Regions from separate parts of the Homo sapiens genome. Here region 2 is linked to region 1. Evidence: fine-mapped expression QTL. A gene starts in region 1. The other region holds a variant in brackets. All regions are shown on one strand. Distances are from middle to middle.

Region 1 (5,375 bases):
CTGAGGCAGGAGAATCGCTTCAACCCGGGAGGCGGAGGTTGCAGTGAGTCGAGATCTTGCCACTGCACTCCAGCCTGGGTGACAGAGTGAGACTCCGTCTCAAAAAAAAAAAAAAAAAAAAAAAAGAAAAAGAAAAAAAAAAGAAAAGAAAAAGGACAGGGGAGATTTTTTATTTATTAGAGACTTAATGAAGACTTATGTATAGGGCTTGGAAGTAAATTAGATAATATCTTTAAGAAATTAACCAGCCTCTTAGGTGCTGTGTGTACCTGACACCCTCACTTCCTATCTCTGGGCCTGTTTCAACCCTAAAATCAGAGGGGAAACGTGCACTCCCTTTCAGTTTAACAAGCAGTCTCTGATTTCCTCCAACTGTGGAGAAATTCTGATTCTAGAAGAGAATGGATGTTAACCACCTAAGCTCTTAGCTAGTCTACCTGAATATTAAATATCCCCTTAACTCATTTCCAATTCCTAATCATGAAGCAATCACTTAAGGCTTGTAGCAACAGATGTCAAACTAAAAAGTTCTTAATTGGTTGACAATAGGCACAGCTTCAGAATTGTTAACTAGAAGTGGTGAAGTCACACGGGAGGAGTTTCCTATAATAAGCCACAAAGAGCAGGGCAATCCGATTTAAATTTAAATATCCACCCCCTTATTTCAAAAGAAACTACCACTAAGAAAATTGATTTCTTTTCTTCCCCCCTCCAGTCACATCGACTGCAAGAGCCATTTCTCAAGACCTGGCCTTGGCCTTATTTCTGCCACATCCTAGAAAAACCCATTCCCACAGCTGCCTGCGAAGCAGCTAGCTCGGTGACCCTCTGCTGATACCGAGGATGCGGGAGCCAGGGAAGTAACTGCCACCTTTCTCTGTCTGAAGGAATAACAGGGTTCCTAGAAGGAGAGAGAAGTTGGAAAAGAGCCGGGTATCTTCATCACTCCCCGCTCCGATTCTTGCTCCTTCAAGGGCCAACAAAACTAACCCACCTCTCCCTGCTCTAAAGTCTAAACCAATAAAACAAGTTGGAAACTGCTGTCCAATCTTTCCAGGCAGCAGGAGTCCTGAAGCCCCCGCCCCCATCCTCCCGGATCTGGGTAGAATCACAGTCAGAGCATGTCAGCGCTGGAGCGGCCTTTGAAATGCGGAGTCCAACTCAGTTCTGCAGAGCCGGGGCGGCGAGGCCCACGGCGGGGAGTGCCCGGGGAGTCCCGACTGGAGCCCAGGGCAGCGGACGGAGAGCTGGGGGCGCCGGGGCCCAGACGCGAGCGGGGGCGGACTCACGCTCTTGTCGATGTCCAGCTTGAGTTTCTTCTGCGAGATGCTCTTCTGGACCCTCTTGCTGAAGGAGGCGTTGCCCGCGGGCCGGACGCAGCGCTCGCCGTCCTCGATGAGGCAGCAGCTCTGGCCGTAGCCCGGGGCGGCGGCAGCTGGGGCGGCGGGGGGCCCTTCGCGGCTGTCCTCCTCCGTGCTGAAGCCGTTCATCTCCCCGCCCCGGGCCGGTCCCTCTGGGGGAGGGTCCCCGGTAGGCCACTCCGCGGCCGCGCTTGCCGCGGGGCAGGTCGCTGAGACCCCCGCAGCCGAGGGTCCCAGAGTCCGTCTCCAGCCCGGGCGCTGCCCTGCCCCGCGTCCGAGAGGCCCGGCTCCCTCGGCCCCCGGCCCTCCGCCTCCGGAAGCCCCCTTCCTCCCGGCTCGAGGCCCCGGGGTCGGCTCCCGCGGCTCGCAGGGCCCCGCCGGGGGTCACCCGGAGGAGCCTTCTGCCGGGGGCCCAGAACCGTAACCCTGCAGCGGGGGTGTCCGGGAGGGCGTCCCAGGAAACAGCCGCTCCCCAAGGACTCCGGGCCTGGGTTGCCAGGGGGTTTCGAAGGCCCCTGCCGGCTCCCGCCTTCTTTCGGCAGCGGGGCAAACTCGCTGCCGGGCAGCTCCCCCGGGGTGGCGCGGCCTCCTCGCGCGGGGCCCGGCCTCGAACCCGCGGCACCCGGGCCCCGCGGCTCGTCCGGCCCACTCCACCCCTGCAGCCACTCGGCTGCGCCCCGAGTCCCGCGGCAGCCCCTGGGCCGCCCGGCCGCCGCCCGCCGAACGCTCCGCACCACAACAGTTCGCTCCCCCCGCCCTTCGCGGGACAGCGGAAGTCCCGCCTTCACGCGACCATTGGTCTCATTTGCTCTCTGGGCGGGGCTGCCGCCGCCGCTGGCGCGTCCCATTGGGCGTCGCCGCCGCCAGTCTCCGGCGCCAGGCTACTTCCTGGACTCTGCTGGGATGGGTTCAAAGTAGAGAAAGTGGAAGAGGAAAGAGTTACCCCAGCGAGAACCGGGAACCGGGCTGCAGACTCTCCGGCCCGGGGGAGGGATGGTGAGCAGGGGCCTGGCTGGACCGAGGGCCAGACTCCAGGAACAGAGGAACACATTCGGGGACAGACAGTAGAGACGCGGACGGGGACGCTGAGGGACAGACTTGGAGGAGGGGCATATGAGGGGACCTAAAGAGGATAGAGGTGCTATCAGGAGAGGGGCGGACTAATAAAATGAAAGGGCCAGGGCCAGAGGACTCGCGGATCCGTGGGAGGAAGGGTGGGTGAAATAGGACGGAAAGCCAGTCATGGCGGGAAAGACAGAGGGACAACCCCATACAGATACGTGGAAAGACATGCGGAGGAGGTGATGGGGGGATCTTGCAAGGCAGTCGCAATATTGGGGGTAGCCGATACCTTCCAGAGTGTGGAGAGTGGGACTGGCTTGGACGGCGCGGAAAGAAAAGGAGAGGGGGAAAGGAGACCCCGAGGGGTTTGGGCGACCCCTCCACTGGGAAGAATGGGAAGTCCGAATGAGGTCTGGAGGGTGGACTAGGTGAGCCGCGGGCAAGAGAAAGGGCTTCAGGGGAGATGAAGTGAAGGCTGGGAGTGGGGCCCAGGGGCCAATCTCGGAATCTAGATGGGGAAGGGCTGCGGTGTCTTGGGCTCTCCCTGGAGCTCCAAGCTGTAGTTCTATTGCTTTGAGTCCCCGGGTCTACCGGCGAAGCGACTGCGCCCTGCCAAGACCCTGCGCTTGGTTTCGGCGCCCAGGGCACCACCTCCCCTCCAGGAGGGGCCGTAGGATATGCTCTGGTCCAGCACTTCAGTCATGCCACTCTCCAACTGCGCAGCATGGGGACTGATGAGGTCCGAAAGGCGATGGGACCAGCCCAGGGTCGTGTAATTATGTAGGGCTGGGCAGCGTTTTATGGGCAGGGAAGAGGGGAGGCTGTGTTAGGTGATAGGTAAGCAAGTGTTAGTACTAGAGGGCATAGAAGGAGCTTCGGGTTTGTGTCCTGTTGTAAAAGGGAAAGCTACCAGTTTCCATGTTTAGAAGCAGGTGGCTGGTGATCTTAAGTTTTGCTCAGTGGCCATAAATGCATTTGTAGCATCTGAACTGGTAATTTCACACGTGGGACAGCCATCGTCGGAAATAGGCCTATCAGAGATAATATGAAGTACAGTGATGTTCATTATGGAATTATTTATAATAGGAAAAATAAAATAGAACCTCAGAGTTCCAAAAGGGAAGTGGTTAAGTAAACTACCTAAAATCTTCAGAAAGAGATTGTGCAGTTAGCATTTGAGGTAGTTTCAACATCAATGTAAACATTTTCTATAGAGAATAATTCACCATTAATTCTTAAATAAAGAGCTGATGAGGAGTTGGAGAAATGCTTTTTTTATGATAAGTAAAAAAATTCAGGATATGAAATTGCATGGAGGATACGATGTCTGTACATCTATGTTTAAAGAAAAAAGAAAACTATTGGTATAAAAAATGCACCAAAGTACTAACAGTGATTATTTCTGGGTAGCAGGAATATGGCTGATATTTTTCTCCTTTTGTTTAACCTTTGCATTTTCTTTAATAAGCATTATTTTTGTTTTTACAGTAGAAAAAATAGAATAAAAATTAATGGAAAAAAGGCACAGATTAATAGGAGTCTTCCCTCAGAGTTCATATATTCTGTTCAAAAGTAAATTGTTGTTGAACTCATTATGTATACCAAGTATAGGGTTGGCTATAGGAGGAGGATGAAACATAACCCTTGCCCTAAAAGAATATCTCCTATCTGGGGTGTTCAGACATATATGTAGAAAACACTTGGGTATCTGTACCAGGCACTGTGTGATGTTGGGTCCAAAGTCAGTTGGTATGGATGAAACCTCCATGTTCCCCATATTTTTCTAAACAGCATTTGTATTCAATGCTAGGCTATTGCGGTACACAACTTCTTCTGCACCAACTTGCCCTGGTCTAAGGGGATCTAGGACCTTTTCTTAGGTGCTCTGTCTCAGTCCTTGAGGTAGTGGCTACTTATATCTGCTATTCTTGTATTATTTAGCATTCTTTTTTCTTTTTACTAGGCAGTTCCTTATAACTGTAGGGGACTACAGTCCCCTATTATAATTAATACATGTTTATATTATTATTTTCCTGTTCAAATTACTGTAAGGTTACTCTTTCCTGATTACACCCAGCCTGATACGCCCAGCCAGCCTCTGTGTGTGTGTGTGTGTGTGGTGGTGGTGGTGGGGGAGTTCATGCTTGTAACTGTTCTTTTTTTTTCTTTTTTCTTTTTTCTTTTGAGACAGAGTTTCACTCTGGTTGCCCAGGCTGGAGTGCAATGGCGCGATCTCGGCTCACCGCAACCTCTGCCTCCCGGATTCAAGCGATTCTCCTGCTTCAGCCTCCCGAGTAGCTGGGATTACAGGCATGTACCACTGCTCCCGGCTAATCTTGTATTTTTAGTAGAGATGGGGTTTCTCCATGTTGGTCCGGCTGGTCTCGGACTCCCAACCTCAGGTGATCTGCCCGCCTCGGCCTCCCAAAGTGCTGGGATTACGGGTGTGAGCCACCGCTCCCAGCCATTCTTTATGTATAATTTTGTAGTCTTTATTCAAGGCATACTTTATCATAATCTTTCCCCATATTGCTATGTAGTTTTCACAGTTGCCATTTTTTATGTAGTACAGTGCAGTTTCTGTAGTACAGTACACTGTGGTGCTAAAGACAGTTGGCTTTGCTGTCAGAACTGGGTTCAGATCTGGACTCCACCCATGACTTGTTATAACATGTTAGCAATTATTTCACTTCTTGAGTCTGATGAAATAGGTGGTGACAAATTCTTAACACAGTGCCTAGAACATCATAAGTGGTTAATAAATGTCAGCTATCATGATTCCTACCGTAGTTACATTTGCCCCCCCAGAAGTTGGATATCTTTTTTGTGTGGTTCTGTATAATTATTTTTGAACATAAAACTTTTTATTATTTAGGATTATTATTTTTTCTGAGTGCCAGAGATGGAATTGTGGTCAAAGACTACAAAGTTTTCCAAGGTCTAAGGGCCAGG
Region 2 (5,375 bases), 48 kb before region 1:
AAATGCACATTTGAGGGAGATTCACTCCCCTGACTTATGAGTAAAACAAAGACTTCACTGGGTGACCTAAATGAGACTTAGTGGAGAAAAGTTGCCATGTTTGGACAGAGATAAATGATATTCATGTTGTATGGTTTTAATATACTAGTACATTCTAGAATGTAAAAGGATTAATTTAAACTCTACAATTTACATCAATATTTTGAATATGTAAATTTTTTATGGGAGACTGTATTACATTTTGCTGAAATTAGAACAAAGTAAAGAGAAAGGGCAAGAAAGCAACATTGCTGATCTCTCTAGTATGAAAGATTTGGAGGGAGTGTGGCAATATATATATAAATGAAAAAATGTAATTGTGTTCATCATATTTAAAAATAGAATATGTGACTGGGCACGGTGGCTCACGCCTGTAATCCCAGCTCTTTGGGAGGCCAAGGCGGGTGGATCGCCTGAGGTCAGGAGTTCGAGACCAGCCTGACCAACATGGAGACACCCCCTCTTTACTAAAAATACAAAATTAGCCAGGCGTGTTGGCACATGCCTGTAATCCCAGCTATGCGGGAGGTTGAGGCAGGAGAATAGCTTGAACCTGGGAGGCGGAGGCTGTGATAAGCTGAGATAGTGCCACTGCACTCCAGCCTGGGCTCCGTCTCAAAAAAAAGAATATACTAAAGAACTGTGATATAAAAGTACTCTGTTAATGTAAAAAATAAAGCAAGTGTAATTCTTTTAGAATATAAAATTTGAGCATTACCTGCTGAGCAGTTCCCAAATTAAGTACAAGGAATGTATATTCATTTTCTGCCATATACTGTATGTAACAGGGAATACCTTGCTAAAATGATAAATACTTAGGATATAGTGGTAATGGCTTTCACATTTTTATAACATAACTCACTACACGCCATTCTTGTAGCTGCCCACTCTTAGAAACTTTGTTGCCTAATATTGAGGAAGCGGCTTTAATTTCTTCCATTTGGCAGTGTATGTCTATAGTGGAGCATGAAATTGGCTATGCATTGCTATTGCCTGCTGAAGTTTCTCTTCCTTGGCTCTTCTACAGTGGCAAATTGTTCTCTTTTCCATGAAGCTACTGAGAAAATCATTTATTTCCATTTTTCCCTCCACAAAGTCTTCCACAATATTATCAGGTTCTTCCCCAGCTTCATGTGCAGCTACTTTCAATGTTGCCTGTAGGGCACTTGCACTACAGCTCTCACTAAGTTCACACTGCCTTTGCATCTTCTTTTTGAAAGCAGACTTCATTTGTTTAAGTAATTCATACTTATCTAAAACGGTTTGCCTTTTGGCTCCCAAGCTGGGCTCCAAAAGGATATTTTTTTCTTGCTAGTTCCTCAATACTTTTTACTAAGTCATCTTTGTCAGTAATAATTTGTTTTAGTTGAGACAAAGTCAGAAACTGTTCTAGTAATACCTCCTCTTGTTCATTCATATCTGTGAGTCGTGACACGCTTAGTTCTGAGAGTTCTGGAAATGCATCAGAGACATCTGGCATCTTGTAACCAAAACCATTTTGGCTTGTCAATATTGAAGCATCTGTTGTGGAAATGGGTAATGGCAGATTTGAAAGGACACCAAATGAAGGAGCGACGGGCTTGGCTGTGGTATGACTTGTTGTTGAAGAAGAAACAGTATTAGCAACAGATAAAGAAGTGATAACTCCTCTTTGTTTCTTCTGGGGGATATGGAGGAAGAAATGGAAAACATTGAGAAGCATAAAGCGGCATCCCACTTGGGTTACTGTATAGGTAAGGAAATGCTGTTGCAGTAGGAGCTAAAACTGGAGGATTCTTCCAAAACTCATCCAACAGACTCTGAATAATTTTTCCAAGATCTGGGTGCATTGTAAAATTGTTTGCTAATGGAGAAGTAACATACACTCCTTGTTTATCCATTAAGTGATGTCGTATTGGTGGAAAAACACTGATCACTGGTTTTTCCTGAGGAAATTGTGGAGGAAGCAATATATGTTAATTGTCAGGTTGTTTATGGTGAATGGCAATCTGTATTCCACATCTTTCTGTATTTTAGCTATACTGGAGTGTGAGTTCCGGAGGGACTCGATCAGGCGTTGCTTCTGCTGCTGGAGGCTGGTAAGGCCACCGGGAACCCGGCTGCGGAGGAGGAGGCGCTCTTTGTCAGGTCCTCGGGCGGAGGCTCTGGAAGGCTCTGGCCTGCTTCTCCCAGCGGCTCGGCCCAGCGGTTCTCCTGCGACAGAGGACCGGGCTGGGACGTCCGTGGCCCAAGCGCTGGGGACCGCGTCTTCTCTAAGCCAGCCCTGCCTGTGCTTCCCGGGTTCTGGCGGACATGTTATGAATGGCGGGCAGCTGGAGAGGGGAACTTGCTGCCCAGAACAGGCAGTCCCACCTTCACCGCCCAGACGCCCAAGCCGGCCAGTTAGGCAGCCTGATCGCCCAGCGCTCCACCACCTGTGACGCCGTCTCTAAAAGGACTCTTTTAAAAAAGCATAGGTACAATGTCATTATCACACCTTTAGAAAACCTAACAATAATCAATAATTATCAAATAGCCACGTAATATGAAGTAAATAATATTCATTGACACCCCCACCCCTGAAAAAAAAAAGCCGGCCACCCATTGCTAAGTGAGAAAAGGAAAACAGAATAGACTCTGACCCCATTTTGGCAACATACACATCCTAATGGTAACAGTTATTTGGGGTTAGAAAGATTATGGATGGTTTCTTCTTTCTCAGGTTCTCGCATTACTTTTTTTTTTTTTTTTTTTTTAATTTTTTTGAGATAGAATCTCACTCTGTTACCCAGGCTGGAGTGCAGTGGTGCGGTCCCAGCTCACTGCAGACTCAAGCTCCTGGGCTCAAGCAATCCTTTCACCTCAGCCTCCCAAGTACCTGGGACTACAAGGGCACACCACCACATCCAGCTTTTTTTTTTTTTTAATTATTATTATTATTTGTAAAGATGAGGCCTCCCTATGTTGCCCAGGCTGGTCTCTAACTCCTGGGCCCAAGCCATTCTCCTGCCTCGGCCTCACAAAGTGCTAGGATTACAGACATGAGCCACCAGGCCCAGCCCATATTACTTTTTGAATTAAAAAAATAATACAAAGGGAAGAATAAGATGGTAGACTTCTTTTTCAAAGTCAAAATCCTCTGATTTAGGATCTAAGTATTAAGGGTTTATCCTGTCCCATCTTGAAATGAAGAAGACACAACCACCCAGAGAAGTTAAGGGTTTTGGCCACAATCACAGAGTAGGGGGAGGCTGTGAAGGAGAGAGGGGTATCCTGCTGGCTTCCCAGACTCTTGGAGAAAGCAGAGACAGAGGTCCTGGGACACCTCTCAAGCTCTGGTCCCTGTTGTCCCACTACCTTCACCCTCTTACCTTCCCATCTTTATCAAG[C/G]CTCACACGTTTGGGGCACTTTGTTGCTGGAGTTGACAGACCAAACGAAACAGAGGGGGGAGGCAGATAACCAGAGCCCTTTCTTGCCACACCTAGTCCTGTTGGCTTGTCAGGTCTGGAGGAGAAGGCATCTTGTTTCCCCAACACATTCCAGAGTCATGTCCCCCTGGCTGCCTGGCCTCCAGGCCAGGTCCCCCCAGCCCCCAAGACTTTCATGGTTGAGACAAAAAAGGAATGAAAGACTTGACATTGTTACACTCCTCTCTCCAAAGTCCCAGTTTTGCTGTGTGCCCTTGGGCAAATCCCTCTCCTCTCTGGGACTGTGTTTCTGCACCTGGACAGGGAAGTGGCTGGGATGGATAATTTCTGAGACATTCACCCTCCTTCCCCACCCAATTCTGATTTCATTCAGAGTTTCTAAATCTATCAGATATAGGAAGGAGATCCACCACACTTCTAAATGTCAGCTCAGAATCTCATGGCTTGGCCGGGCGTGGTGGCTAACGCCTGTAATCCCAGCACTTTGGGAGGCCGAGGTGGGCAGATCACGAGGTCATGAGATCGAGACCATCCTGGCTAACACAGTGAAACCCTGTCTCTACTGAAAATACAAATAATTAGCTGGGCGTGGTGGCGGGTACCTGTAGTCCCAGCTACTCGGGAGGCTGAGGCAGGAGAATGGTGTGAACCCAGGAGGCAGAGCTTGCAGTGAGCCAAGATCGTGCCACTGCACTCCAGCCTGGGCGACAGAGCGAGACTCCGTCTCAAAAAAAAAAAAAAAAAAAAGAATCTCATGGCTCATGCCTATAATCCCAGCACTTTGGGAGGCCGAGGTGGTCAGATCATCATCTGAGGTCAGGAGTTCGAGACCAGCCTGGCTAACACGGTGACAACCCGTCTCTACTGAAAAAACAAAAATAGCCAAGTGTGGTGGCAGGCGCCTGTAATCCCAGCTACTCAGAAGGCTGAAGCAGGAGAATCGCTTGAACCTGGGAGGTGGGGGTTGCAGTGAGCCGAGATTGGGCCATTGCACTTCAGCCTGGGCAACAGAGAGAGACTTTGCCTCAAAAAACAAAAACAAAAACAAAAACAAAAAACAAACAAAAAATAAACTACCCATGGCTGCCTTTGGCCATGGTGTGAAGGCCAGTCACAACTTTTCTGACGAAGGGGACAGGAGGTAGACATTTTACTTCAAGAGCCAGTACACTCACCACCCCCACACACACTTGAAATAAAAGTTTCATGCAATAACACACCCTTTCTTCATAAGATGCACTCTGATAATTTTTATTTATTTTTTTAGTTTCTGATTGCAATTCATTAAGATGTTTTCACAATCCACAAAACAGCCATCACTTGCACTTTGAAGAACACTGATTTATACAGCTATGCCCCAATTTCTTAGCAAGGTAGTACCAGCCAAGACAAATACAAGTAAATATATATATATTATATATGTGTGTGTGTGTGTGCATGTGTATGTGTAAATTATTTTTCCCAAACAGATTTCATATTAACTGTCTTGGCTTCTCAAACTTGAATGTGCATATGAGTCCCTTGGGATGTTTTTAAAAATGCAGATTCTGATTCATTAGGTGTGAGATGGGGCCAAGATTCTGCATCTTTGACTAGTCCCCTAGGTGAAGCATCTCAGATATTCATTTCACTGGTCTAACTGTTCTCACCGATGAAACCATTTTTTCTCGTGTCTTTCCTTCTTTTCTCTCTCCCTCTTTTTCCATCCTTCTGTAACTGTGTTTGGAGACTCAGTGGGTTCAAGTTGCAGCTCTGTCGCCTACCAGCTGGGGAAGCTTGAACAAGTTATTTAAATTCTCTGTGCCTCAGTTACTTTACCTGCAAAATGGGGGTAATAACTGCACTTTCTCCTGAAGTACTTTTGAGAATTGAATGAGATGATCCCTGTAAATTACTTAACGCATTCATTCAACAAACATTTATTGAATA

What was found. PIP is the estimated chance that this variant, and not a neighbour inherited with it, causes the effect.
Region 2: its variant is the best candidate, but not a certain one, in a credible set for the expression of SAP30L in whole blood (INTERVAL, PIP 0.86).

Annotation. Positions count from the first base shown.
Region 1 is chr5:154,442,720-154,448,094 of GRCh38, reverse strand. SAP30L (SAP30 like) reads right to left here and starts at 2,098. Exons shown (of 4, transcript NM_024632.6): 1 at 1,290-2,098. The coding sequence starts at 1,490. It overlaps SAP30L-AS1 (SAP30L and GALNT10 antisense RNA 1), which reads left to right and starts at 2,273. Exons shown (of 3, transcript NR_037897.1): 1 at 2,273-2,357; 2 at 4,615-4,733. RefSeq lists silencers at 1,455-1,564, 1,695-2,224 and enhancers at 1,801-2,301, 2,355-2,474.
Region 2 is chr5:154,490,369-154,495,743 of GRCh38, reverse strand. It overlaps the pseudogene LOC100128833 and the pseudogene LOC100271907. Among named protein-coding and RNA genes, the nearest start is that of HAND1, 15 kb to the right of the region's middle. The variant C/G (reference allele first, on the strand shown) is at 3,408.